Homo sapiens: one gene and its partners. The protein of the gene in region 7 purifies or fractionates together with the protein of the main gene of each other region. This does not show direct contact. Each region holds a gene or a part of one and is shown on either strand. Other genes may lie near its edges.

What was found.
Region 1: the proteins of MGARP (region 7) and MTX2 purify together in Homo sapiens (affinity purification with mass spectrometry; one large-scale study listed by BioGRID and IntAct). This does not show direct contact.
Region 2: the proteins of MGARP (region 7) and HEATR6 purify together in Homo sapiens (co-immunoprecipitation; 2 studies listed by BioGRID and IntAct, with this or other methods). This does not show direct contact.
Region 3: the proteins of MGARP (region 7) and BTAF1 purify together in Homo sapiens (affinity purification with mass spectrometry; one large-scale study listed by BioGRID and IntAct). This does not show direct contact.
Region 4: the proteins of MGARP (region 7) and SLC39A11 purify together in Homo sapiens (affinity purification with mass spectrometry; one large-scale study listed by BioGRID and IntAct). This does not show direct contact.
Region 5: the proteins of MGARP (region 7) and SLC25A33 purify together in Homo sapiens (affinity purification with mass spectrometry; one large-scale study listed by BioGRID and IntAct). This does not show direct contact.
Region 6: the proteins of MGARP (region 7) and MADD purify together in Homo sapiens (affinity purification with mass spectrometry; one large-scale study listed by BioGRID and IntAct). This does not show direct contact.

What each region holds. Positions count from the first base shown.
Region 1 is NC_000002.12:176,268,214-176,272,241, reverse strand, and holds the start of MTX2 (metaxin-2), read right to left. Parts: upstream 2,801-4,028; 5' UTR 2,613-2,800; coding exon 2,573-2,612; intron 2,029-2,572; exon of another isoform or gene 1,833-2,028; coding exon of another isoform or gene 1,823-1,832; intron 1-1,822. UniProt on the Homo sapiens protein: Involved in transport of proteins into the mitochondrion.
Region 2 is NC_000017.11:60,068,922-60,072,421, forward strand, and holds part of HEATR6 (HEAT repeat-containing protein 6), read right to left. Parts: intron 3,409-3,500; coding exon 3,294-3,408; intron 1,887-3,293; coding exon 1,785-1,886; intron 928-1,784; coding exon 790-927; intron 1-789. UniProt on the Homo sapiens protein: Amplification-dependent oncogene.
Region 3 is NC_000010.11:92,024,770-92,028,269, reverse strand, and holds part of BTAF1 (TATA-binding protein-associated factor 172), read right to left. Parts: coding exon 3,303-3,500; intron 1,679-3,302; coding exon 1,519-1,678; intron 1,141-1,518; coding exon 970-1,140; intron 1-969. UniProt on the Homo sapiens protein: Regulates transcription in association with TATA binding protein (TBP). Removes TBP from the TATA box in an ATP-dependent manner.
Region 4 is NC_000017.11:72,645,449-72,648,688, reverse strand, and holds the end of SLC39A11 (zinc transporter ZIP11), read left to right. Parts: intron 1-1,026; coding exon 1,027-1,105; 3' UTR 1,106-2,740; downstream 2,741-3,240. UniProt on the Homo sapiens protein: Zinc importer that regulates cytosolic zinc concentrations either via zinc influx from the extracellular compartment or efflux from intracellular organelles such as Golgi apparatus. May transport copper ions as well.
Region 5 is NC_000001.11:9,549,465-9,552,964, reverse strand, and holds part of SLC25A33 (solute carrier family 25 member 33), read right to left. Parts: intron 1-3,500. UniProt on the Homo sapiens protein: Mitochondrial transporter that imports/exports pyrimidine nucleotides into and from mitochondria. Selectively transports uridine, thymidine, guanosine, cytosine and inosine (deoxy)nucleoside di- and triphosphates by an antiport mechanism.
Region 6 is NC_000011.10:47,290,633-47,294,132, forward strand, and holds part of MADD (MAP kinase-activating death domain protein), read left to right. Parts: coding exon 1-184; intron 185-1,910; coding exon 1,911-1,964; intron 1,965-2,857; exon of another isoform or gene 2,858-3,250; coding exon 3,251-3,351; intron 3,352-3,500. UniProt on the Homo sapiens protein: Guanyl-nucleotide exchange factor that regulates small GTPases of the Rab family. Converts GDP-bound inactive form of RAB27A and RAB27B to the GTP-bound active forms.
Region 7 is NC_000004.12:139,277,426-139,281,398, forward strand, and holds the start of MGARP (protein MGARP), read right to left. Parts: upstream 2,801-3,973; 5' UTR 2,734-2,800; coding exon 2,652-2,733; intron 1-2,651. UniProt on the Homo sapiens protein: Plays a role in the trafficking of mitochondria along microtubules. Regulates the kinesin-mediated axonal transport of mitochondria to nerve terminals along microtubules during hypoxia.

The DNA of each region.
Region 1 (4,028 bases), on a different chromosome or scaffold from region 7:
AGCCTCTGGTAACCACCTTTCTATTCTGTTTCTAGGAGATCAACTTTCTTAGATTTCCCCAAAAAGATTAGATTTTAGATCACTACTTGTCTTTCTATGTCTAGCTTATTTCATTTAGCATAATGTCCTCCAGATCCATCCATTTTATCACAAATGATAGGGTTTCCTTCTTTTTTAAGGCTGAATAGTATTCCATTGTATCTTATATACATTTTCTTTATCCATTCATCCACTGATAAACACCTGGGTTGCTTCCATATCTTGGCTATTGTGAATACTGCTGCAATGAACATGGGACTGCACATACCTCTTAGACAATTTCAATTCCTTTGGATACATGCCCAGAAGTGGAATTGGTGGATTGGTGTACAATAATTTGACATATATTTAAAACATTTCTAGTTTTTCGCTATTACAAATAATGCTGCAATTAATATCATTGTGTATTTCTTTAAGTACTGGTCTTTACATTTCTATCAGATAAACCCCCATAAGTAGAATTTTCAGGCCAGAGAATGTCATTTTAATAAATATTGCTACATTACGTTCCCAAAAAGTAATACTAACTTACAGACCCAATAGTTTGAGAGTAACTTTTCCCCATGCCCTATTAGTACTAGAAATCATATTCACTTTTGTCCATCTGATGGCAGGGGTGGGAGGATGCTATACATTATTAGGGACAGAGAACATCTTTTCATCTGTTCACTGTCCATCTATATTTCACCCTTTTGTGAAATGCCTGTTCCAATCCTTTGTCCTTGATTCTGTTGGTTTGTCTTCTTATTTGTACTAACTTGAGATGTCTTTTATCAAAGTTTTAAAATTTTTTCGGCAATCAAATCTGCCAATTTCTTCTCTTATGGATTATGAATTCTTAAGTTTTGCTTAGGCCTCTTCTGCTATCCAAGGATTATTAAAATAATCTATGTTTTCCTCTAATTATTTTATTACAATTTTGTTGTTTTATATTTAGATCTTTAATCAATCTGGAATTTATTCATGTGGTGTAATGACTTAGTAGTTGTTCCAACACCATTTATTGAATTATCCATTTTTAAATGCTTCCTCCTAGAGTAACAGATCACTACAAATAGCTAAGACGGCAGACAGACAAAATGCCTAGAAATTTTTAAACGTCACTACTTAAAGCAGTATCCAAAGTTTATTAAAAGACATTCATCATTTTCTCATTAAAAGAAATCACATATTAGGACACATGCACACAGTGAACCACTCAACATACACTGTGAAGTTTTTTTTTTCAACATAGTAGCAAACTAAATTAAATCGCTGATCTAACTATATAAGCCTGATTTTGTTTCAACATAAATGGTAAAAGCAGAAATAATCATTGCTTGAAATCTCAAGATTAGTCATTGATTTGGGTCGCAAATATTTATTGAGCACCAACTGACTATGGATACAATGGGGAACAAAACAAGTTTGATCCCTACTTTCAGGAAGCTTGCAATCTAGTAGGAGCTTCTCTCCTCTAAAAAATAATGTTTTTAAGTGAAGAAGGAAAAAAAAGAAATGTACGTTCACACAAACGCAAAGCAGTGAAAAACATTCCGGCAAATTTTATGACACATTCTGTACTTCCCATTTCCAAAATACTATCTTATTACTTCAAATGTACCTATTTATTGTGGTGACTGTCTTCATTACTGTACTCATGTTGAAAACACTGCTAGGGAGTTATGACTAATTCCATTAGCCTCTATCTCAAAGTACCTATGTTTAGTCTCCTCACTTTCTCAACAATATTTAATTTCTTTCATTACAATAAATAAAAACCTCAATAAGAGAAATTACAAACCTATATACATCAGTCATGTTCAGTCCACCGACTCAAAAGTATTTCTTTAAAGTACATGCAGATTTAAAAATTTTCCATGAATCCGCGCGGGCGTGGTGGCGGGCGCCTGTAATCCCAACTACTCGGGAGGCTAAGGCAGGAGAATCGCTTGAACCCGGGAAGCGGAGGTTGCAGTGAGCCCAGGTTGTGCCACTGCACTCCAGCCTCGGTGACAAAAGAGAAACTCCGTCTCAACAAATAAATAAATAAATAACTCCTAGAGTCTTAGCAAATGGCACTACTGTGTCGCTGGGAGACGAAGCAAGAAGTCTGGTGTTCCCTCAACAATAGGTAACAACTGATTAGTGACAGTCACCTTAAACTTTTTGAGTACCAAGACCCAGAAACTGCCACCACTCTTAGACTGAAGCGTTCAGATGCTTGCCCCTGTGGTAACGCCCCCCACCTCAATCCCAATCCAAGGCCTCCCCCTCATACTCCAGCACCTCCCAACTGAATGGGGAGGTGGGACAAAGTACCGCCCAAGGGAAGGAGACGGGACTCCTGCTCCTGCGGGGTGACCTTGGCCAAGTGTCTCCTTCTCAGTTTTCCCATATGTGAGATAAGGTTGGTAGTCCGTGCCCGCCTCCACCATCCGGGCCGGGTTCAGCGTATAATGCCGCAAGGCTGGAGGAAAGCTCCAGCCCTGTACCCCACGCGGCTCCCCGAGACCGCGCCGCCACCTTCTGGGTCTGCGGCCAGCCGCGCTACCTGCAATCTGGGAGACGAAGGCTTCCGCCACTAGAGACATGTCGGCTGGGAGGCCCGGCGCCCGGGTGCCTGCCCCCCACGGGCCTCAGCGTCCTCCACCGCAAACCCGGAGGCTCTCGGCAGTTAACGAGCCTAGCCCCGCCAACGTTCAGACTCGCAAAGCCCACTCCAACAGCAGCGGCGGCTGCAGTGAGGCCCCCAAGGTTACCGCCAGGCCTGGCTAGGGACTTCCGGCGCAGCCGACAACGGCACTCGAGCGCTTCCGCCGGCCCCGCCCCCGCGCCGTCCTACGGGGCGCCGGCGCGGCTAGCTCCGTCCAGCCAATTCCAGGCTCTGCGCTGGGGGCCCGCAGGTGGAAGCGAAGTACCCGACTCGTCTCCCACCCAGGGGACTGGCAGGGGAATCTGGGAGATTTTTAGCGTCCTTTCTGTAAGCCAGAATTTTGTAACCGAGTAACATTTGTAAACGCCCACTGGATACCAGGCACTTATATACCTATATCTACACACACATATATACATATATACACACACACATACACACATATATAATATATACACGTATATATGTACACATGTACATATATACACATATATACATATATATACACATATATTCTATTTGACTTCGTCTTCTCAACAACCCATTAAAGTAATAATATTATCGCCATTTTACGGATAAGAATATAGGCTTAAGGAGTTTAAACTGCCTGCCCAGGCAGTCCTCCAAGGACCAGATTCAAGGCTGCATGAATTCCCTCTATTCCATTATATTGCTGGGTTGATTAGTCCGTGGATAGACATTAGTGTTTTTTGTTGTTGTTGTTTATTCAAACATGCTTGGCAGAAAGGAGGCTTGAGCAGCGCCTAAGCCAGAAGGTAATTTGTCCTTCAACTCCATACACCCGAAATGATGCTCAGCTTGGAGAATAAGATACTTTAGTTTCACACACTTCTCACCTTTCGGGGGTGAACGGGGCAGGAAGAGGAGAAACTAAATTCCCTGAGTAACTTTGTCTTAACCTAATAGCTTCTTAAATTACACAATTAAAGAAAAATCATATGCATTACAGATTGGTGGTATTACAAGTGGGACAGGCTTCAGAGCTGGTAACCCAAAGCCCCCTTCACTGATGAGAAACAAGTTCAGAGAGGTGAGGTAACTCATTTTAAATCACACAGTAAATCAAAAAGTCAGACAGCTTACTAGGTTTTTGCAGAGGAAACCTGTATTCTAAGAATTACTGTCCATGACATTTAGAAAGCTATATTTCCATTCTTTATATCCGTAGATCTCTATTACTGTTCATTCTGCCTCCTTAACTAGCGTGGTTGGTTTCCTAGAGCTGCCAGATTACCACAAACTGGTTGGCTAAACAACAGAAATTCATTCTCACAATTCTGGAGGCTAGAAGTCTGAAATCAAGGTGTCAGCAGGGCCATGCTGTCTTGCAAGG
Region 2 (3,500 bases), on a different chromosome or scaffold from region 7:
TCAAACTCCTAAAAGCAGCCAGAGTCTATATACTTAGTGCTTAGCACAGCGTCTGGAACACAGCAGATGTTGGGTAAATGCTGAGTGAGTGAATGAGTGAAATAATTTCTAATAAGAAGCACTTTGATCAGGTATGACATTTCTGGAAGTGAATCCTTGGCCATACATCTGTATGCTCCAGGTTCTCCAACCAAAGCACGAGGGAGATGGCAGCTTCTGGAAAGGCTGGGAAATCAGGTGAATGTAAGGTGTGGAGATGGTGCGCTGACTGGTAGGTGGGCTTCTAACAGTCTAGAGTGGGGTTGGCAAATTATGGCCCAAAAGCCAAATCCAGCCCAGCACACAGCCTGCTTCTGTAAATAAAATTTTAGTGAAACACAGTCATGCCCATTCATTTACATAGTGTCTATGGCTGCTTTTGCACTGTTACAATAGAGTTGGTAGTTATGACAGAGACCTGAAGTATTTACTAGCCTAGTAGAGAAAGTTTAGAGAACGTTTGTTGACTCCTGGTCTTGAGCATCATGGGGATGAGAATGCTTGGTTTGGGGTATAAAGTGAATGCTCATTTTTATAGCTGTTATACTGACTACACCTCTAAGAAGTATAAGATGCTTTAATTGGTATTTTGAGCATCAGATGAGTTTAAATTTACTATGCTAACAACCCTAAACTGAAATAAAATTCAAGGTAGGCTTTTAGGGTAGTAGTGATGCAAATCATAGAAAACACACACAACAATCTATTAAAAATAAGCCACAACTTAAATCTAAATAAACATAAATGTACCAAAGTTGGTCGAGAAGCACTGGATTCTGATTGCTGTGGTTTGATAGGTGTTCGCCCATCATACTGAGGAAGCGGAGTTGGGTATAACACCGTGGGCATCTCTATGTTTAGTCCAGGGAGTCCGTGAAACATGAATTTCTAATAATGATGAATAAGGACACACACACACACACGAAACCAAAAAAACCATTAATCATAAACCATTAATCATAAAATAGAACTATTTACCATGTCTGGATCACAACACTCATAGATAATGTTCAAAAGCCTACTAAGGAAATATAAATGAGATAGAAAATAGATACCTTGAAGGCATAGGGCTTAAAGAAGAGCTGAAGTTTATCTGGCCTCCAGCTGGATTTGGTTTGGTCAGATCAAATCAGGTCTGGTTTTAGTTTCCTTATTTATTTATAAAATTTATCCAATTACTTTATCTGTCTATAATTTTTTAAACAAATTTATCATTTTTATTTACCTATCTCCACCTATAGCTATCTCTCTATTTGATGTGGGAGCAAGAGAATGCCACAAGGAAAGAATTACTTCTTACTTTGCTGGCTGAAGAAGCTGGGTCCCCAGAGATGCTGGCCTGACTTTCCGACTGACTGGCACGCTCGGAAGCTGCCCATTGACACACGTCTTGGTTGGCCTGTCTACTACTTGGAGGAGAAAGCCAAGGAGAAGCACTGGCTCTTCTTGTACAAACAAGTACAACATAGTCTATAATTAAATATTCTATAGGTCATACTCCCCTACCGATTCCCTTCCTAAGATTCATAAATAATTTTAAAATTTTGATGCATTTATTAAATGGAGATTTATTTTCTGTTCTTAATATTAAGTGTCTTTGAATATGAACATTTTTGTCTACTCTCTCAAAATATATGTAAGAACTTTTAATACCTCAAAGTTAGCCTTAGAATAAGGATGTAAAGTGGTCCTTGTACCATGGGTTGAAACAGGAAAGACAATGATCATATGAAGACTTGCCTTACCTTTAGCACAGCTAAAAGTGCTCCAAGTTCATCAGTCTGTGTTAGTTTCATTCTCCCACCATTTAGAAGTGACTGTATACCTTTTAATGCATTTTGCAATAACTAGGGGGAAAAGGGAGACCCAGTTAGAAGGCAGAATAAAATCTGGTTGTCCAGGAATCAACTTACTAGCACCACTTAGGATGGAAGAGAGACAGTCTCTAGATGATGAAAAAAAACTTTATTATAGACACACATATACACACACAAAGCAGAAATGAAGATCTAAGGAGACCTAATAAACTACCATGAATTCTTTTCTAGAAGAAAAGAATAATGAAGTGGTCTTATTGTACATGTTTATAAACCACTATGTACAAATGGTGAGCAAGAAAAAAGAGAGAAGATGTTTAGCAAGAAAAATGTGACAAGGGATAAAAAAGATAGCACAGATCAGAATTGGGAAAGCTCTGTAATATGGCAAACCCAGCCCTCTTAAAAGCAAGGGGATGTATGTGGGAACTGCTGATAAATTATAGAAACTTGGTTTCTGGAGGGCAATTCTGACCAAGATTGATTTCTTGACTCAGTAATCTCATTTCTAGAACTCTCTCCTTAAGAAACACTTCCGACATTGGGATGATGTGAACTGTAGCCTTGTTTGAAATAGTGGGAAAATTTTAAAAACTTCAATTTTGATGATTATGATAATGATTATAAAAGAAGCTAACCCTCTGCTAAATGTAAAACTCAACAACAATAACAGTAGGCCCTTTGAATGCTTTATTTCATATACTTCTCATAAGAACCCCACAATGTGGTTATATCAGTCCCTTTTCAGGGAGGAACACAGAGGCTCCAAGAAGTTAACTAACTTGTCCAAGGTCTTCCAGCCATAGCAGTTAGAAACTATGAGGTATATTAACAGGAACCGAATAGATGTCCCAGAGATATTAAGTTTTAACAAAACAAGAAAGTTACAAAACAGCATGTTAAATATGATCCCACTTAAAGCTGTAATTATGCTCATTTACATATAGAAAAAAAAATCTGAGGGCACACAGCACAAATTGTCTTCAGTGGCTATATCCGAGCAGGAGACTAGAAGGAACTTTATCTCAGCTATATAACATTTGAAATGTGTTACTCTAAATTTAAAAGATGTTAATAAACTGTCGTTTGCATCGTATTTTTAAAAAAGAAATAAAATATTGCAGATATATTTGGTGAAATCTCTCTTTACTTTCATCTTAAAGATAGTCACTAGCCTGCAACTATTGCTTTTATACTCAGAAGGAAAAAGAATAGTTTCCTCTAAAAATCTAGAATTGCAAAATATAACAAATAAAAAGCTTCTTATAATTTAAACCGAAATGGTATGATTTTAGTCTTTTTAGGTTACAAACATTTCATATATGTGTATTTCTCTAGACGAAGCTAATGGTGCAAATTAAACTCGTTAGTAACACTTTTCCAATCTGCTTCTAGACACATCCGCAACATTCACTACGTCAATGATAGTCCACTTACCATGCAAAATGTGATATCATCCATATCAGATGATTTTGGAGACTGTAAAATAGTCAGAAAAGCTTGGAAACAGACATTTTGGTAGGGCTCCTCCAAATACGGCTGTCCTGGCACACTAAACGCATACAGAGAAAACAACTCAAACTCAGTCTCCTTTAAAATGAGGCTTGCAAAAGACTAATTAAAAATAGCAGTAATATAGACTAT
Region 3 (3,500 bases), on a different chromosome or scaffold from region 7:
TTTCCCTAAAATATCCCTCTGAGCCCAGTTCTGGTCACTGAAAGTCACCCATAAGAATATTCCTTCAAACAGAATAAAAGCTATTTGAAGACGGCTATGCATGTTTCTTTGAGCCTTCTTTTTTCTATGTTAAACATGTCTCATTCTTTCAACTTTATCTTGACTTTCAATATGACATGATTGAAGAACCTGCCTCCATTCTGGCCACCAGGGACTTAATTTGTTACCATTTAAAATGTAGCTCCCCAAACTAGACATATTTCAAATGTGGTTTAACATACACATAGTATGGCAGAACGATTTTCTCTTACTTGAAAGTACACTTCTGTTATTACAGCTAGTTTTAATCATCATATACCCCACCATAATTTATACTAAGTATGCAGTGGATTTTCTGAACCTATGTAGGACTTTAAATCCAACTATATTGGTTTTACAATATTAGACTCACTAATATTTCCAAGTGGTGCATCCTTTTGATTATAGATTGTTATCTGATGTATTAGTTCCATCATCTGCAATAACAATGGCTACTATTTATTGAGAATCTACACTAGATATCCTTTCTGACTGCTTACATATATAATCTTACATCACAACCATGTAGTAAAATAGGTATAGAAGCTCAGAGAGATAATCTGCCTAAGGTAACCAGTTAACAGGAGGCAGGGCCAAGAACTCTCACCCATGAGTCTTACTGACTCCAGTGATAAGCTGTGCTTTAGCAGAAAAGGACTAAGGAAAGAAACCTTGTGGCAAGACACTGAAGACATCAATGAAAAAAAAAAATCAAAACTTCACACATCCCCTAGTATGCTGCAGAATTTATCTAGGCACCAAAAATTCCCTCCAGTGGTGATCTCATGGATACTAAAGTAAACGCATTTTGCTGCTCCTTTAATACTTTCAACTTAGCAGTCACAGGAAGCCTGTGACTCAAAGATACAACAAATTGTGTAAGTTCTTTACCTTATCAAGAGTAAACAGATCAAGAAGCTGATCAGTCCCCATGCTCTGCAAACTAGAATTCTCTTGGCTAATAACAGTATTCGCTATGTTCATCTTGAATTTCTGCAACCCCATTATTTTTTCTTCCAATGTTCCTCTGGTTATCAATCGGTATACGTTAACCACACGTTTCTGGATAAGAAAAACAGTTAAGCAACCGTAACACATATTATGCTTTGAGGTTCCAACGAGTCAGAGGGCTTGTAGACTTGTACTATTTTATACTACCTAATTAGGGTTGGATTTTTATTTTGTCTGGCCACATGAGCTCAAAATGTGTGCAGCAATCACAGAATATTAGGGATGAACAGTGATCCAGGTTTTCCTAAGTGCTAGCACCTCATTTAATGCATGAGGAAGTGATACCACAGAAGAGTTAAGTGATCTGTCCAAGGTCATAACACATGTATGTTAACACCAGAGCAAGAACTAAACCAAGGTTTCCTATCTTTCTGGGGGAGTATATTTTCATGCACAGGTTAACATCTGTGAGGTAAAATTGACTTTTACCTGCCCAATGCGATGGGCCCGGTCCATGGCTTGTAGATCTCGCATAGGATTCCAGTCATGCTCCACAAATACTACTGTGTCAGCGCCTGTCAAATTAAGTCCCAGGCCACCAACGTGAGTGGTAAGTAACAGAACGTCTATAGATGGATCATTATTAAACCTAAAAGTAGATAACAAAAATAAAATTAGTCCATTCTTAAGTCCTATAACAGAAACTGTTAATAAAAATTAAAGAGCACAAATGAAAATGCTGCTTTAAAAATCCACAATAGGGATACTTACATGATCATCTGAGAAAAATATCCTCTCAATATGTATAACGTTTTTAGTAAAAGAGGGCATTCCAAAGCTATTCAGGAATTTCATAAATACAAAATAAGGCAAACTGCATTGAATTTAGTAACATCAGGTAAGGACTAACTTGCAAAAATATAATTAAATGCTAATTATAATTAAGATAAACCCAACTATGAACCTTTAAAGTATGGGGACAGAGAAGTGTGAGAACAGGCTAGACTTTCATTCAGGGACGACAGAAGGTGAGAGTGTTAGGGTTGCTACTACTGTACTAGTCCTAGAAGACACTGACAAAGGATATCTAGTAACTTCTAGGAAAAAGAAAAAACTAACATTAAAAATAGCAGCTACCAAGCTACGATTTATTATCCTTACTACAAGTCAAGCAATAGTCTTTGTACTTTATATGCATTATTTTATTTAATTGTTACAATAGCTCTATAAGGGTATTATTACCAATATCCCTATTTTAGAGAGACTGAGGCTGTGTGAATGATAAACAGGCTCAAGAGAACACTGCTTAAATAGCAGAGCCAGGAGTCAAACCTGAGCCTGTCGGCTTCCAAAGTCCCTCCCCGGGTCTCTAACTTTATTGTGCCTAATGATCTCTTAGGGATGCTTGTTTTTTTTTTTTTTTTTTTTTTGAGACAGAGTCTTGCTCTGTTGCTCAGGCTGAAGTGCAGTGGCCCAATCCAATCTCTGCTCACTGCAACTCTGCCTCTCGGGTTCAAGTCATTTTCCTGCCTCAGCCTCCAGAGTAGCTGGGATTACAGGCATGTGCCACCACATCCAGCTAATTTTTATATTTTTAGTAGAGACAGGGTTTCACCATGTTGGCCAGGCTGGTCTTGAACTCCTGACCTCAAGTAATCCACCCACCTTGGCCTCCCAAAGTGCTGGGATTACAGGCATGAGTCACCGCGCTCAGCTGGGATGCTTGTTAAAAATGGCTACTCTTGAAGTCAGCAGCTTTGGGACTAAGCAGAACCTAGGAATCTGCATTTTTTTTTTAAAAAAAAAAGCAACCACTGAGATTTTAAAAGTAGAGGCTGCAGACCACATGTGAACACTGCACTCACCAGTTCTGCTTCCTAGCTGGGCCAGATTCCAACTTGTTCTCAGTGCACAAACAGGGATTAGGATGGAGATTTTAGCTAAGCCACTTGTTTGGTTCCTCTCACCCTAATTCTCCCAAAAAGGTAAGGGGGAAAGTAGTTATCCTTACTGTTGGTTGATGCCTTAAATTTCTTTCATGCTCTTCAGAGTGCTTTTCTATTACAGTCACACCCTTTTCATATGCTAAGCAAATAATCTATTCGATTATATTTATGTAGTTCTATAGTTAAAAAGGGGTTTATTTGGGGTGAATTACACAATTAAAAAAATGCATTTGCAGATATTTAGCCAATGAAAATATTTCATGGGGCAAACTTCTATGTAAGTAATAATATATTTATTTATGAATAAGAGTCTTAGAAGCCACTTACCGGGAAACAATGGAATGCCTCTGACCAGGAGGTATGCTGCCATCTAATCTCAAATAAGTGACAGAGGGCAAGTGAGGTTTGAGGAGATCATGCTCTACTATATCAAGCATGCTTTTCAGCTGACAGAATATCAGTATCCTGTGCTGGGCCACAACAGACTCTGTGCCACTCTCGGAAGTGCTGCCATTTCCCAAACCG
Region 4 (3,240 bases), on a different chromosome or scaffold from region 7:
GCCCCTTCCCAAGATCATCCCCACTGCCTCCTCAACTGTGCTCTCTGAAACTAAAAGAAAAGAAGCTAAGGGCATGTGGGTCAAGAAATGAGGTGACACCAGGCAGTGGCATACACACCTGCCCCCCGTCCCTTGATGCAGTAGACTATCGTTTTTGTATATTCTCTCTCATCCTGTCTCTCGATTCTCGGGCTGGAATGAAGGGAGAGGTGAGCTCTAAAATGTCAGTGAAGGTGATACATGCATGTCTTCACTGGCTAGCTATAGGCCAGGTGTCAGAAGGTGGGAGTAAGGGTTTGCTTTGTTCCATTTTGTTGTTGTTTTGTTTTGTTTTGTTTTTCTTTTTTTTTTTTTTTTTAATGGCAGAGTCTCGCTCTGTCACCCAGGCTGGAGTGCAGTGGTGTGATCTCGGCTCACTGCAACCTCCGCCCCCCAGGTTCAAGTGATTCTCATGCCTCAGCCTCCCAAGTAGCTGGGACTACAGGCAACCACCACTACGCCCAGCTAATTTTTGTATTTATAGTAGAGACGGGGTTTCGCCATGTTAGCCAGGCTGGTCTCAAACTCCTGACCTCAGGTGATCTGCCTGCCTCGGCCTCTCAAAGTGCTGGGATTACAGGCTTGAGCCACTGCTCCCAGCCTATTTTGGTTTTTATAGAAGAATAACTCTGAGGCTAGTTTAAAAGGCCAGATTAAGTAATATCTTTAAGAAATAATCACCCCTCTTCATTACTCACACATGGACCACAGAACGATCATAGGTGACCTTGGGCAAGTAACTTCTCTTTGCCTCAGTTTCCCCACCAGTAAAATGAGGATAATTATGATACTGACCTCATGAGGTTGTTGTTTGGGGTTCCATGGTTCATTAGTTTGCCTGGCACATAGTAAGCCCCAGTAAATGTTACCATTATTAATGGTAGTGTGCTTTCTCTTGGAATTGGACATTGCAGAGGATGCCTTCAGCCTAGCCGTGGCCTCAGGGATCATTAAGGTCTTACTTTTCTTCCTGTCCTTCTCTTCCAGTGGTAATGGGAAACTGGCATCCTGGGCCTCCATCCTGGGATTTGTAGTGATGATGTCACTGGACGTTGGCCTGGGCTAGGGCTGAGACGCTTCGGACCCCGGGAAAGGCCATACGAAGAAACAGCAGTGGTTGGCTTCTATGGGACAACAAGCTTCTTTCTTCACATTAAAACTTTTTTCCTTCCTCTCTTCTTCATCTCATTATCCTGATTGACTCTGATTATAATAGAACCATTTTTACTTTGCTTTGAGGGAGATTTTTGATTTAATGGGGAATTTTAAGGTGTCATGGAAATACAGATTCTTTGTTTTGGCCACTGAATGGACTCTCTCTTCAGTGGGATTATCAAGGAACTTCAGATCAGGGAAATCTCCACTTCGGGACCTTCTATCTGCCTCCCAACTCCTCAAGGTCACCTATAGAAGCGAGCTACCAAAAGACGTCTCCTAAGCATTTTGGTGGCCTAGTGACTCAGGGCAGAGTGGCCAGCACACCTCTCATCCGCCCCTCCTGCTCCATCACTGCTGAGCCTCTCCCCATCTAGAATGTTGGAACTGGAGCATCATAAAGATAGCAAGCTACCTTCCAAGGCCGAGCCAGCCCAGAGAGGAGCATGTCTTCCTTTACCTCCCCCTAAGGAGATACTACATGGGAGGGGGACACAGAAAAAGGGAAGGAAATTGGCTAGTCTGGCTTTTTTTTTTTTTTTTTTTAAAGGCAAAGATTGACATTATTGAAGGAAAGGGGATGAGGACAACTGTGAACTCACAGTGAGCCCTGTGGAAAGAAGAGACAGACAGAGTGTGGGTTTGTTCGGAGGCCTCTGCTGTCAATGGATTCCAGGAGCAAGGCCATTTGTCGCGCTTTCCAAATTTCTTAGGCATTTATTTTGATAAGTTTATAGCCATCATGTTTCTAAGAGACTTGGAGACACCAGCAAACTGCTAGAACTCAAACTCTTCAATTACTCAAAGAAGGAGCCATTTCAGTTAACTCAAGTGAATGAAAGAGTTTTGGAATCTGCTGTGGGTCCTTCCCTGTTGACCATTTGGTAACTTATAATCTGACAAAAACTCTTGAGCTGCAACAGGCCTTGCCAGAGGGCTCAGGATGGGAAAGGAAGAAGGGGATAGGAAAAGAAGAGGTAATTTTACATTTCCCCTTTAAAGTAAATTTTAGCCAACTCATCATTCTGAAATGTCCCTATAAAGAATGAGTCGAACTAGACCAGAAGCCAGCCTACTCCTTCTTACATAGCTTCTCCAACAGGGGTAGCAATGACCTGTCCACTTCAAACACAGATAAGGCCTGCCATCCTCATTGGTTAAAGGCACACGTGAGACTTTCAGTGGGCTCTGCTGAGAAGGAAGGCAGCCCAGGAGTCAGGTATGCAGGCATTGCATTGTCAGTGTCTGCTCTCAGAGTTTACACATTCAATTGCTTCCAAGGGTGAATCTCCTGCTCTGTGAATGCTATCAGACCCCAAAGGCCAACCTTGGGCTGGGTCTATGTACGTTCTTCCGAAGCACTGATGATCAAAATTGAAGACACATTCAGAGGTTTGATTGGTTGAGATTAACTGGTGTGGTGGTTGGTGTATGTATGTTTTATTTTTATGTCTTTGTATGTAGTTCTACATAATGCAAATTGTGCTTTCTGATGGACAAGACCTCATAACTGTGATTAATATCAATAAAAAGGGGATGTTGTGGATGACCTGTGTTACGTTCAGTACTTCTCAAAGCTGCTTCTTTGCAAGGATGATCATAAAAGAGCTAACTAAAGTTGGAACTAACACCTCCCTGATCCAACACTAGGAGAGGCAAAGGAAAGAGCTCAGATGGGAAGGGCTAGTCAGATTCTTGGTTGCAACAACAGCATCCAACAGCAGCTTACTTAAACAGAAAAGGAAATGAGTGGAAGCCTGTTAGGGAATTCACAGGCTCTTTCGGAGAATCGGGCTTGAAAATGGGTTGGATCCAAGAAAGCCAGAGGTCTGGGGCCATGACCCAATCACACCTGGAGAACAGCTTGGTTTAGATGCCATGGTCCCCAGAGCTGGTCCCTAGATCCTGGACACCACTAATGAAACTGCTGTACCTTGATGCCACCACCACTGCCGCCACAAGAACAAACTCTACACTGAGCTGGATTCTTTGTGTCCTGGCTCCACATTCGAAGTTCTAGATCAGAACATCCAGCTGCCAGAGCTT
Region 5 (3,500 bases), on a different chromosome or scaffold from region 7:
GCCTGGGCAACAGAGCAAGACTCCATCTCAAAAAAAAAAAAAAAAAAAAAAAAAGTTGAAATCCCAGAGCTAAAGGGTAACTACTATTCCCACGTTAGCACATCCTTTGGGGCTTTCCATTCTTGGCATTTTCACCTAACCCCTTCCCAGTATCTAGGTATTCTGAGTGCCCTTTTATGGCAAATTATGCACCTGCTTCATCATTTCCAATGGCTTCATACTATCTCTGCCTTATCGATTGATAAGATATTAACCAATTTCCTACTGTTGGACATTCATGTAATTTCCAATTTCACTACCATGCTGCAATGAATACTCTAGAAAAGTATTTCTGCACATTCAAACAAAATAGTTCATTCAGGTGAAGATACTATTTTGAAAATCAATATTTACTCCAATACAGACCCTTCTTAAAATTTGATTAATTACTTTCGGCCAGGCACTGTGGCTCACACTTGTAATACTACCACTCTGGGAGGCTGAGGCAGGTGGATTACTTGAGGCCAGGAGTTCGAGACCAGCCTGGCCAACAGGGTGAAACCCAATCTCTACTAAAAAAAAAAAATACAAAAATTAGCCAGGTGTAGTGGCACATGCCTGTAATGCCTGTAATTCCAGCTACTGGGGAGGCTGAGGCAGGAGAATAGCTTGAATGCAGGAGGCAGAGGTTGCAGTGAGCCAAGATTGTGTCACTGCACTCCAGCCTGGGTGACAGAGCAAGACTGTCTTAAAAAAAAAAATCTGATTAATCACCTTCAACAATGAAGTCCTTGTGTTTCCCTCATTCACAACTAATCAGTTAATCCTGTGTTTTCATTACTCACACTGTCTCTCTGGATCAGGGTTCCCCTAAGCCAATCATTTGAGTATTACCCTTATATTCATATCGAGATATTACCTGAATTACTATTTAAATATTTTTCTTCAAGGCAACTCACTTATTTATCCTAAAATACCTACTTCCATCATCTCTTAAACAATTCTACCAATGAAATAACATGTTCGATGGGCTAGTTATAATTAACAATGTCAAGGGCCATAGACACATCCTCACCCATGCCTACCAATGACACAGGCCTCACTCTGGAAAACATCGCTCTATAATCTGATGAGTTCCTCAAGATTCAGACCTGGGGCCTTACTTATCTTTCCATCCCTGGCATCAGGGCTCAACAAGTTCCTAAACAGTGTTTACTAAGCAAAGGAATTATTCAATTGAGATTTCAACGAAAATGTCTTCCAAGGTTTCTAAGTATTTGAAAAAAAAAAGTCTTTCTCATTAGACTGGGAGCTCCTTGGAGAAAAGCTGTTTGTACATTCTTGCAACTAGAGCGTAGCAGGCACCTGGCATAAAATAGGTGGGTCAATAAAAATGATAGAGCACCAGCATCTCCGCCTGGGAAAGGCAACGACAGGAAGGAAAAACAGGCCTGGACATATAGAATGTTTATGCAGCTTCCCTACTCCACTAGAGGCAAATGTTGGAAATCTAGAAGCAAACCTAGTACCTAACGCACACTCTGAAAGTAACGAATGAAGTAAAATCCCCATGAGGGATTATTTTATTTTATTTATTTACCTATTGATTTTTGGGGGACAGTTTCACTCTGTCACCCAGGCTGGGAGTGCAGTGGTGCGATTTCAGTTCACTGCAACCTCTGCCTCCTGGATTCAAGCAATTGTCATGCCTCAGCCTCCTGAGTAGTTGGGACTACAGGTCCCAGCTGTATTTTTTTGTATTTTTAGTAGAGATGGGCTTTCACTATGTTGGCCAGGCTGGTCTTCAACTCCTGACCTCAAGTGATCCACCTGCCTTGGCCTCCCAAAGTGCTGGGATTACAGGCGTGAGCCACGCACCTGGCCTATTTTTATTTTTAATCAAGTTGTGGGCCTAGCTTAATACTGGTTTGTGTAATTTGCTCCAAGCACTAGAATATATCTAAAGAAAATAGGCTATAATAAGGAATATTTTTAAAAAGATAGAAGTGGCCAGGTGTGACAGCTCATGCCTGTAATCCTAGCACTTTAGGAGGCCGAGATGGGTGGACCACTTGAGCTCAGGAGTTGGAGACCAGCCTGGCCAACAGGTCAAAACCCTGTCTCTACCAAGAATACACATTAAAAAATTAGCTGGGTGTGGTGATGTGCGCCTGTAGTCCCGATACTCGAGAGGCTGACGTGGGAGGATGGCTTAAGACCAGGAGGCAGAGGTTGCAGTGGGCTGAGATCACACCACTGCCCTCCAGCCTGGGTGACAAAGCCAAGACTCAGTCTCAATAATTAATTAATTAATTAATTAATAAAAATAAAAATGATAGACGTAAAAACTTTCTAACCCATGTCTATTCATACAAAATACTCCTACCTGTCATAATAACCACATGCCTAAAAAGTATAACATTTAAAGATACTGAGAAACTTACCAGCTACGTAGTAAAATAAAGAAATATCTGAAATCTATTTGTGTTCGATAACGTAACTCCAAATCATTGAAAAAGAGCTTCTGGGTAAATCCTTTCATCAGAAAGCCAGTAAGTTCAAATACCATACAGGTCAACCACCTTTGCTTTGTCCCTAAGTAAACTGCACTCATTACTTTGGCCAACTGTCATCCAAGTCTATGCCACTGATCAAAGGATGGTGTGTTCGTCCAAAAAAGCAAATGCCCTAGTAACAGCGAATCAGTGACCTCTTTCAAGGTGGCAGGCCACACTCACTTTTTTTTTTTTTTTTAAAGAGAGAAGGTCTTCCTCTGTTACCCAGGCTGGAGTCCTGTCTCTACAAAAACAAAAACAAATTAGTCAGGCATGGTGGTGTACACCTGTAGTCCCAGCTACTTAGGAGGATCACCTGAACCCAAGGAGGTCAAGGCTGCAGTGAGGTGAGATGACACTACTGTACTTCAGCCTGGGTGAGACCCCGTCTCAAAAAAAAAAAAAAAAAAAAAAAAAAATATATATATATATATGTATAGAAAAAATATATATACATATATAGAAATATATATATAAAGATACATATATAGAAATATATATATATATATGTTGGGCGTGGCGGCTCACACCTGTAATCCCAGCACTCTGGGAGGCTGAGGTGGGCAGATTACTTGAGGTAAGGAGTTCTAGAGACCAGCCTGACCAACGTGCTGAAACCCTGTCTCCACTAAAAATACAAAAATTAGCTGGGTGTGGTGGCGGGTGCCTGTAATCCCAGGTACTCAGGAGGCTGAGGCAGGAGAATCCCTTGAATCTGGGAGGCGGAGGTTACAGTGAGCCGATCTCGCATAACTGCACTCCAGCCTGAGCGACAGAGCAAGACTCTGTATCAAAAAAAAAAAAAAAAAGGTTTGTGATGTACTGGAGGCCTTGGTGAATGTTTTTTCATTGTAGATGGCATTCAACCTACTATGAGCCCCAACACTGGGAACTCCCATTGATCCCACCATCAGTTCATCCCCCCCGTTGATCCCACCATCAGTTCCTCCCCGCCATTGATCCCAT
Region 6 (3,500 bases), on a different chromosome or scaffold from region 7:
CCAACAGAAAGTGTAAATACCCCAGTTGGCAAGGATCCTGGCCTAGCTGGGCGGGGGGACCCAAAGGCTATGGCACAACTGAGAGTTCCACAACTGGGACCTCGGGCACCAAGTGCCACAGGAAAGGGTCCTAAGGAACTGGACACCAGAAGTTTAAAGGAAGAAAATTTTATAGCATCTATTGGTACGTATCAGTGTGTTTGGTGTGGTGGAGGGGTCCTGGCTTCTTAAATATCCCTTTCTCCTCAATTCATCCAGAATCCTGCCTTTCTCTGCCCCATGCTTTGCTTCTTAGAGAGGGAAGGGGGCCTGTGTCCATTTCTGGTGGTGTTTCTTTGTACTTCTCTAGTCTTTATGCTTCATCCACAGCCACCCCCCACCCCGTATCTTAGATGAAGAATGGTAAGTTTTGTTTAGAGGGCCCAATGAGGCTTACTGCAGGGGGTGTGAGCTGTACTCCTGGCCCCTCCTTTTATTTACGTCTGCATTTCTTCACATAGTGGAGAGAATTCCTGGAAGTGCTCAGGAAGTTTATAGATGCATTTTTGGGCTATAAAATTATGACATTTGTGTCTCTGAAGCCAGTGTCCTCCCATCCAACCATTATACTCCTCTGGAATGTGCTCCTCTGGGGCATGCCTGGCAACCCCATTTCCCTGGGTTCTGGATCTTTGAGGTATAGGTTTCCAAGTCAGTTCTTTAAATGCTTCTTCACTGGACTTGATTATAATCTCGTTTACATTTGGTGTTTCTCCGTTCCCACAAAGGCAGTGCCTTAGTGAGCTTTCTAGGCATCACCTCTGTTTGGCTCACTCCCTGCTTGACCTTGAGTCATCGAGGTTGGATCTTTCTTTTTCTGGTTCTAGGTCCCTAGGCACTCTGCTTCCAGCTGACATCTCATTGCCATGGCCATTAGCAGTTGCCATATGCTCCCATAAATGGTGACATGGAACCAGATTCCTTTTTAGGGGAGCTACACTTCCCTAGCCAGCAGAATATTATTCTAGTAGCAGTCAACTCCTGGCTTTCTCCTGCCTCATGTGATGTTGTAGAAAATGTACTGACCTGCTAGTCTGGAGATCTGGAGTTTTAGTCCCATATCAGCCTCCAACTAGGAATGCAACTTTGGGCAAATAACTTCACCTCTCAGGGTATCTGTCTCTTCATCTGGGAAATGAGGAAATCATACTAAGTACACTCTGAAGTTCCTTCCAGGAAAAGAATTGCTGTGGTTGCCATTCTGTCTGCTTTTCCCTATGAAGATGCTGGTCTTGACCATTTTATGTTCTCTGTCACCTCAACTGGAGGCATTTTTCCAGATCACTGGTGGGTAGGGCAGGTAGGGGTGAGTTGGTTTCTTGAGGAGCAATGAGGAGGGATGCTAACTGCCTGCATGAATTGGCCTTTGTTCAGTCCAGTGAATCAAGCAAAGATTGGTGTTCTTCCTTCTGAAACTCTGGCTGCTTGAGGTGTTCATCTGTCTCATCTGGAATCTGAAAAATTGCCCTTCCCCAGCTCATTTGGTAGAGAGAGTGTGTGGCATGGTGGGAGTTTAAATGGATCCTAAGTTACATGATCTTGATCAAGTGCTCCAGCCTCTTTAGGACCAGTTCCTCATGCAAAAATGAAGGAGCTTTGTTAAGGGCACTTCCAGCTCTAACATTCTGCAGGGTTTTTACTGCCACATTGGGATTGGAATTAGAAATTTGGAATCTGTTCATGAGTTTGGGTGGAGGGGTTAGATCTCTTGTTTTCTGCCCCTTCTCCCCATGAAGATATCTTTGTATCTCTTGGTTGGTAATCCAGTGCCTGAGACTGAATCGACTTGGGTGGGTGGGTTTCCATTTCGTCTGTCTGACCAGCCTCTGACTTTCTGTCTTTCTCTCCTGCTTGCATTGCATCTGGGGTAGAATTGTGGAACAAGCACCAGGAAGTGAAAAAGCAAAAAGCTTTGGAAAAACAGAGTAAGGAACAAATGCCCTTTCCTGTTCCCAAGTCCTCCATACCTGCCAACTCCCCAGGCCCAGTTGGGGCAGGCTCCCTTTGTCAGCCCCACCCCAAATTTGCTCTTAGAGCGTGTTTGGAATGGCAGCAGGTAGGTAGCATGTGACTCCTAGGTGTGTGTAGGCCGCTTCTTTCCCCCTCCCCTCGTGTCAATCAGGCTATAACCAGGTGTCTACTGAATACAACTCCCCAGAACTTGGTTCTCTGTTGCTTCAGAGTTGGTGGGGAGAATGTTTGCCTATTTTAGTGCCCCCCATTGGCTGATATCTCCCACACCTGTTAGAAGGCCTGTGGGCACAGTTGGCAGAGATGGTTGCTGTCCCTCCATGTTGAGTCTGTAGCTGCCCCACTCTCTGGTGGCTTGCCTAGGCACGCTTTCTTGCTTTCTGTCATTCTGTCTTTCTGCCATACCATTGTGGGTGGGTGGGGGACAAGGGGGGTGGTTTTCATCTCAAACATAGAAGTTGTAGGATGGAGGTAGGCAGTGCCCACCAAAACAGCTGGTGTTTCTTATCTCATCGGGCCCAACCTTTTCTACCTCCTTTAGACACATTTGTTTGGGAAGCATTAAGGGACCTGGGGACCATTAAATGGTTTCAGGTACCAGTGAAGCTCAGACTCTTGAGTGCCATGGAATGTGGTTTAGACATTTGTTCGTGGAGCTTTTCTTTTTTTTTTTTTTTGAGATGGAGTCTTGCTCTGCTGCTCAGGCTGGAGTGCAGTGGTACGATCTTGCCTCACTGCAACCTCTGCCTCCAGGGCTCAAGCAATTGTCGTGCCTCAACCTCCCGAGTAGCTGAGATTACAGGTGTGCATCACCACGCCCGGCTAATTTTTGTATTTTTTGGTAGAGACAGGGTTTCATCATGTTGGCCAGGCTGGTCTCAAACTCCTGACTTCAGGTGATCTACCTGCCTCAGCCTCCCAAAGTGCTGGGATTACAGTCGTGAGCCACCATGCCCAGCCTTGTGGAGCTTCTCTGTTTTAAGATGATTTGCTCAGAATTTTCTCAGGTTGAGAAGATGGCTGGAGAACCCATTGAGACCAGGTCTGATTTGTCCTACTTGGTTCTTAAGGCATCTGGGGTCCTCTTTTTCCAGTGGGTCCTGAGTGGGGGGTAGTCCTTGGAAAGGTGACTAGGATGGGCTGAACGGGTCTGGGAACAGCCTGTGCTGCCGTCCCACCCCCTTTACCAGCCTGCCCCTAGCCTTTGTGCACGGAGTAACAGAAGTCTTCCCCTACTCAGGGCCTGAAGTAATCAAACCTGTCTTTGACCTTGGTGAGACAGAGGAGAAAAAGTCCCAGATCAGCGCAGACAGTGGTGTGAGCCTGACGTCTAGTTCCCAGGTTTGTGACAACCTTGTTGAAATTTGCAAGTATTAAATATGCTGTCTCAGAATACTTCTTTAAGTTAAAATAGAACAGTCAGACAGCCGGGCACAGTGGCTCATGCTTGTAATCCCAGCACTTTGGGAGGCCGAGGCGGGTGGGTCACC
Region 7 (3,973 bases):
AAAGTACATCTGTGATCAAATAGGGAATATATAGCCTTCATATTTCTCAAACAGACAAAAATATCAGAAATATTTTTTAAATAGAACTAAAATTACCAGAGATTTAAGTAGACTTAAATACAAATACAATGATGGACAAGTTACTTAAAAAGACAATGAAATGAGAAATTTTTCAATAAGGATTAATTAGACAAATTTTAGCACATTCATACAATGTGAAACAAATAGACATAACTTTTGCAGAACAATATTTACTTACATGAGAAAATATTTACAATGTATTAGGTGAAAAGTCATAGCAAAATACTCTGGGACTATCCAAGATTTGTGGAAATAATGTGCACAAGGAAGGAATGAGGGGAAAAAAAAGGTCTGGAAAACTAAATATACTAAAACGTAATTAGTTGTGTTCACTGAGTGGTAGGATTACAGGTGAATTCCATTTTTTATTTTACCTGTTTTTCCCCAATTATCTATTATAAATCTAAATTATTTATTCATTAAAAAGTTACCCTTTTAAGGCTGGGCTCGGTGGCTCACACCTGTAATCCCAGCACTTTGGGAGGCCGAGGTAGGTGGATCACCTTAGGTTGGGAGTTCAAGACCAGCCTGACCAACATGGAGAAACCCCATCTCTACTAAAAATGCAAAATTAGCTGGGTGTGGTGGCCCGTGCCTGTAATCCCAGCTACTCCGGAGGCTGAGGCAGGAGAATCACTTGGATCCGGGAGGCGGAGGTTGTGGTGAGCCGAGATCACGCCATTGCACTCCAGCCTGAGCAACAAGAGTGAAACTCTGTCTCAAAAAAATAAAATTACCCTTTTAAAAGCAAAAAGGAGAGAACAAAATGTGATGAGACACAGTTAAAAATTTTTCCTTCAATAAAACTGAAAAAAATTATTTTTCATCAAAGTAGAAAGTATGAACAAAAGGTTAAGTAATGTCCACGACTGAAGACAAATTTGTTTCCAATCAATAATAGTTCTTAAATACATTTTAAGTGCTGCAAAAATAGTTAGATGAAAATCAGAGAAAGACCAGTACCTTTACAAGCAGCATTGCTAGATACGTATTTAAAATTTTTAAACTACTTCTATTTTGCCGCAAATTGGGAAGAAAATTATTTGGAATTTCTGCAGCTACAAAAAAAAGGTGCGCGTGTGTGTGTGTGTGTTTGTGTGTGCGTGCACGCGCGCATGATGTCGGTGGGGAACGCAGACAGATAAAACGAAAGGCCACGGTCAGAGGACTAATCTTTCTCCCCGTTCTCAACAGAACAGTCCCGTTATCTTCCGAAGTTTAAAATAAATGGCTTCTCCCTACTTCATCAGTGTATATATATATTTAAAAGCTCTATATCATTTGGTATAAAGATCTAGAAAAATAAAGGCAATAAAGATCTAGGAAAACGAAGATGTCTTATTTCTGATACTTGAGGGATAACTTCCTTCCACCAGCATTTTACAAGAAAAATAAAGCGAGTTAGTTAGACCTCCGTCCTTCCCTCCCACCACCACCAACAGAGGCCTAATCAACGTGAAAAAAAAATCGGCCCATGGAATTCTCCGCGCACATCTTTCTCTCCTGCTGGAATCCACCCTCTGGGGTAAAATTATCTCGGAAGGCTCAGAAAGTGAGGCTAAGTGAAGAGAGCATTAAGAACCCTTCACGATATTGTCTAAGAGCCGTCCCCCAGTCGTGAGTGGAAGAGAGAGGGGTGACGGATGGGGACTAGGGAAAAGCGGCTGGGGCAGAACCGCCCTGGAGCGCAAGCCTGGTCCCAGAAGAAAAACAATCTTCCTTGCTCACACCTATTAAGCACCTACTATGTTCCCAGCACTATACGAAGCGCTTTCCTATATGTCCGTTTTTATTTAATAAGCCTCCAGTTCACACTGCAACTCCCCCTTTAGTTAATTGCTGAGTATTCTGCTTTTTCTCGCGTATCCTCAGAACCAAAGGTGTCGATATTTGGACTACAGAGCCAAGCAGTTGCAGGACGACGTGCAACCTCAAAGGAAAGTGTCCCGAAGGCCGCTTCCTTTTTGGGGGTTGTGGATCTCAGAGCCAGGCGCTCGCGGGGTTCAGGCTGCTGAGACCCTGCCAAGGGTTAGGTTTATTTACCCCACGAACATTCGCCCAGCGTCCACTGAGCGGGCCCTGCCTCACTGCCTCCCAGCGCTTGCCGGGCCCGCTCGCTGATCGGCGTCCACCTTCCCACCGTTCCTCTGCTTCCTCAGGAGATTGGAGAGCGAATGGTGCCTCTAACAATAAAAGTGGTAAGCTGCGACTTTGTCAGCCAGGCACGTTTTTAAGTGCTTTTAACCATACATTAACTCATTAAAAAGGAAAACCATCATCGCCCTCATTTTATAGATGAGGAAACAGGTTAAGCCATTTGTCCAAGATCAGGATGCGAACCCAGATAATCTGGACTCTGAGGCACCCTGGAAAAGTTCCCTACTTCCAAAGTCTGCAGGAGCTTCGGGACGTCTTCCCGGGAGTCTCCCCCAGTCTCCTCGACCTCCAATCCAGGCTTCTGCTGCTCTGGGTCGGGTTTGGCCAACTGGGTGCCGGCCGGTTCCCTGGCGCGGGCGAAATCTGCACCCGAGGCGCCCGTCCTCCTCTCCGGGCTAGACCTCCTTACTCACCGTCCTTTCCGAGCGGCGCGGGGTTGGGGGGCGCCCTCAGCGGCAGCGCCAGAGTCTTGGAGACCGCCCTGCGGAGATACATCGCGCCCGCTGTCCGCCGCGCAGCAGCCTCGGTACCCAGGCGCAGGCTGCCCTTCCACAGAGAGGCTGAGAGCCTGGCAGCGCCCCGCCCGGAGGAGGCACGTCGACCTTCATCCAGCCCCGCCTCCGCGGCCCCCGGGAGGTGGGGAGACCTTTGTAGTCCTCACCATCCTCCCCTAACCCATCTCCAGCTCTGTTGCTATCCCTGAGGTCTCTAGAGCTGACCGCGGCATCTCAGAAAAGGGATGGGGAACCTACAAGTCGCCGTCGCCTGCCTGGCTCATTCTGTACCACTGAATGTAACTCCTCACAGCAAGCTGGAAATGTTTTGGGAATTGGACGAGATTAAGACAAGGACACAGTTTATCACGCTGGATGTAATCTGAAACCATTTTATCTCCTGCATTCCGTTAGCTTTCCTAGGAGAGGGAAGGATAGCTGGAAGTTTCTTAAAAATGAGAAGAGCGAAGGGGTAGCCTCAGCCTTCCATTAGCGCACTGGGTGATGCTCAGAATCGTAAGAAAATCTGCAGACAATGGTTGAATTTCTAGACAGCTCACTGTTAAAACGACTTTAAAATATCAAAAACACTGTATATTCCTCTATGGGATGTGAAATTAATATTTCCACATCAGCGGCCGGGCACAGTGGCTCACGTTTATAATCCCAGCACTTTGGGAGGCCGAGGCAGGCGGATCACTTGAGGTCAGGAGTTGGAGAGCAGCCTGGGCAACATGGTGAAACCCCGTTTCTACTAAAAATACAAAAAATTAGCCGGGAGTGGTGGCGCGGGCCTGTAATCCCAGCTACTCGGGACGCTAAGGCAGGAGAATCGCTTGAACCCGGGAGGCGGAGGTCGCAGTGAGCCGAGATCATGCCACTACATTCAAGCCTGGGTGACAGAGCAAGACCCTGTCTCAAAAGCAAAACAAAACAAAACAAAAACCCCAAAAACAAAACAAAACAAACAAAACAAAAAAACACATCAACTAAAAATACTAAATTATTAGTTTTCCGTCTCATCGTGGCTACAAGAACTTGTCATGGTTTGAATATGGAAACCAATAATTTATTACGTTTATAACATTGTCTAAATGATTACTCTTTGGAAGACACCATTTCCTACTATAATAATCCCTTATGTGTGTTTGGCACTTGAAAGATTATAAAGCACTTTCACATCTATTATCTCTTTTAATTTTCACTGCAACCCTCTGAGGGAGGTGGCAATTATTCCCTTT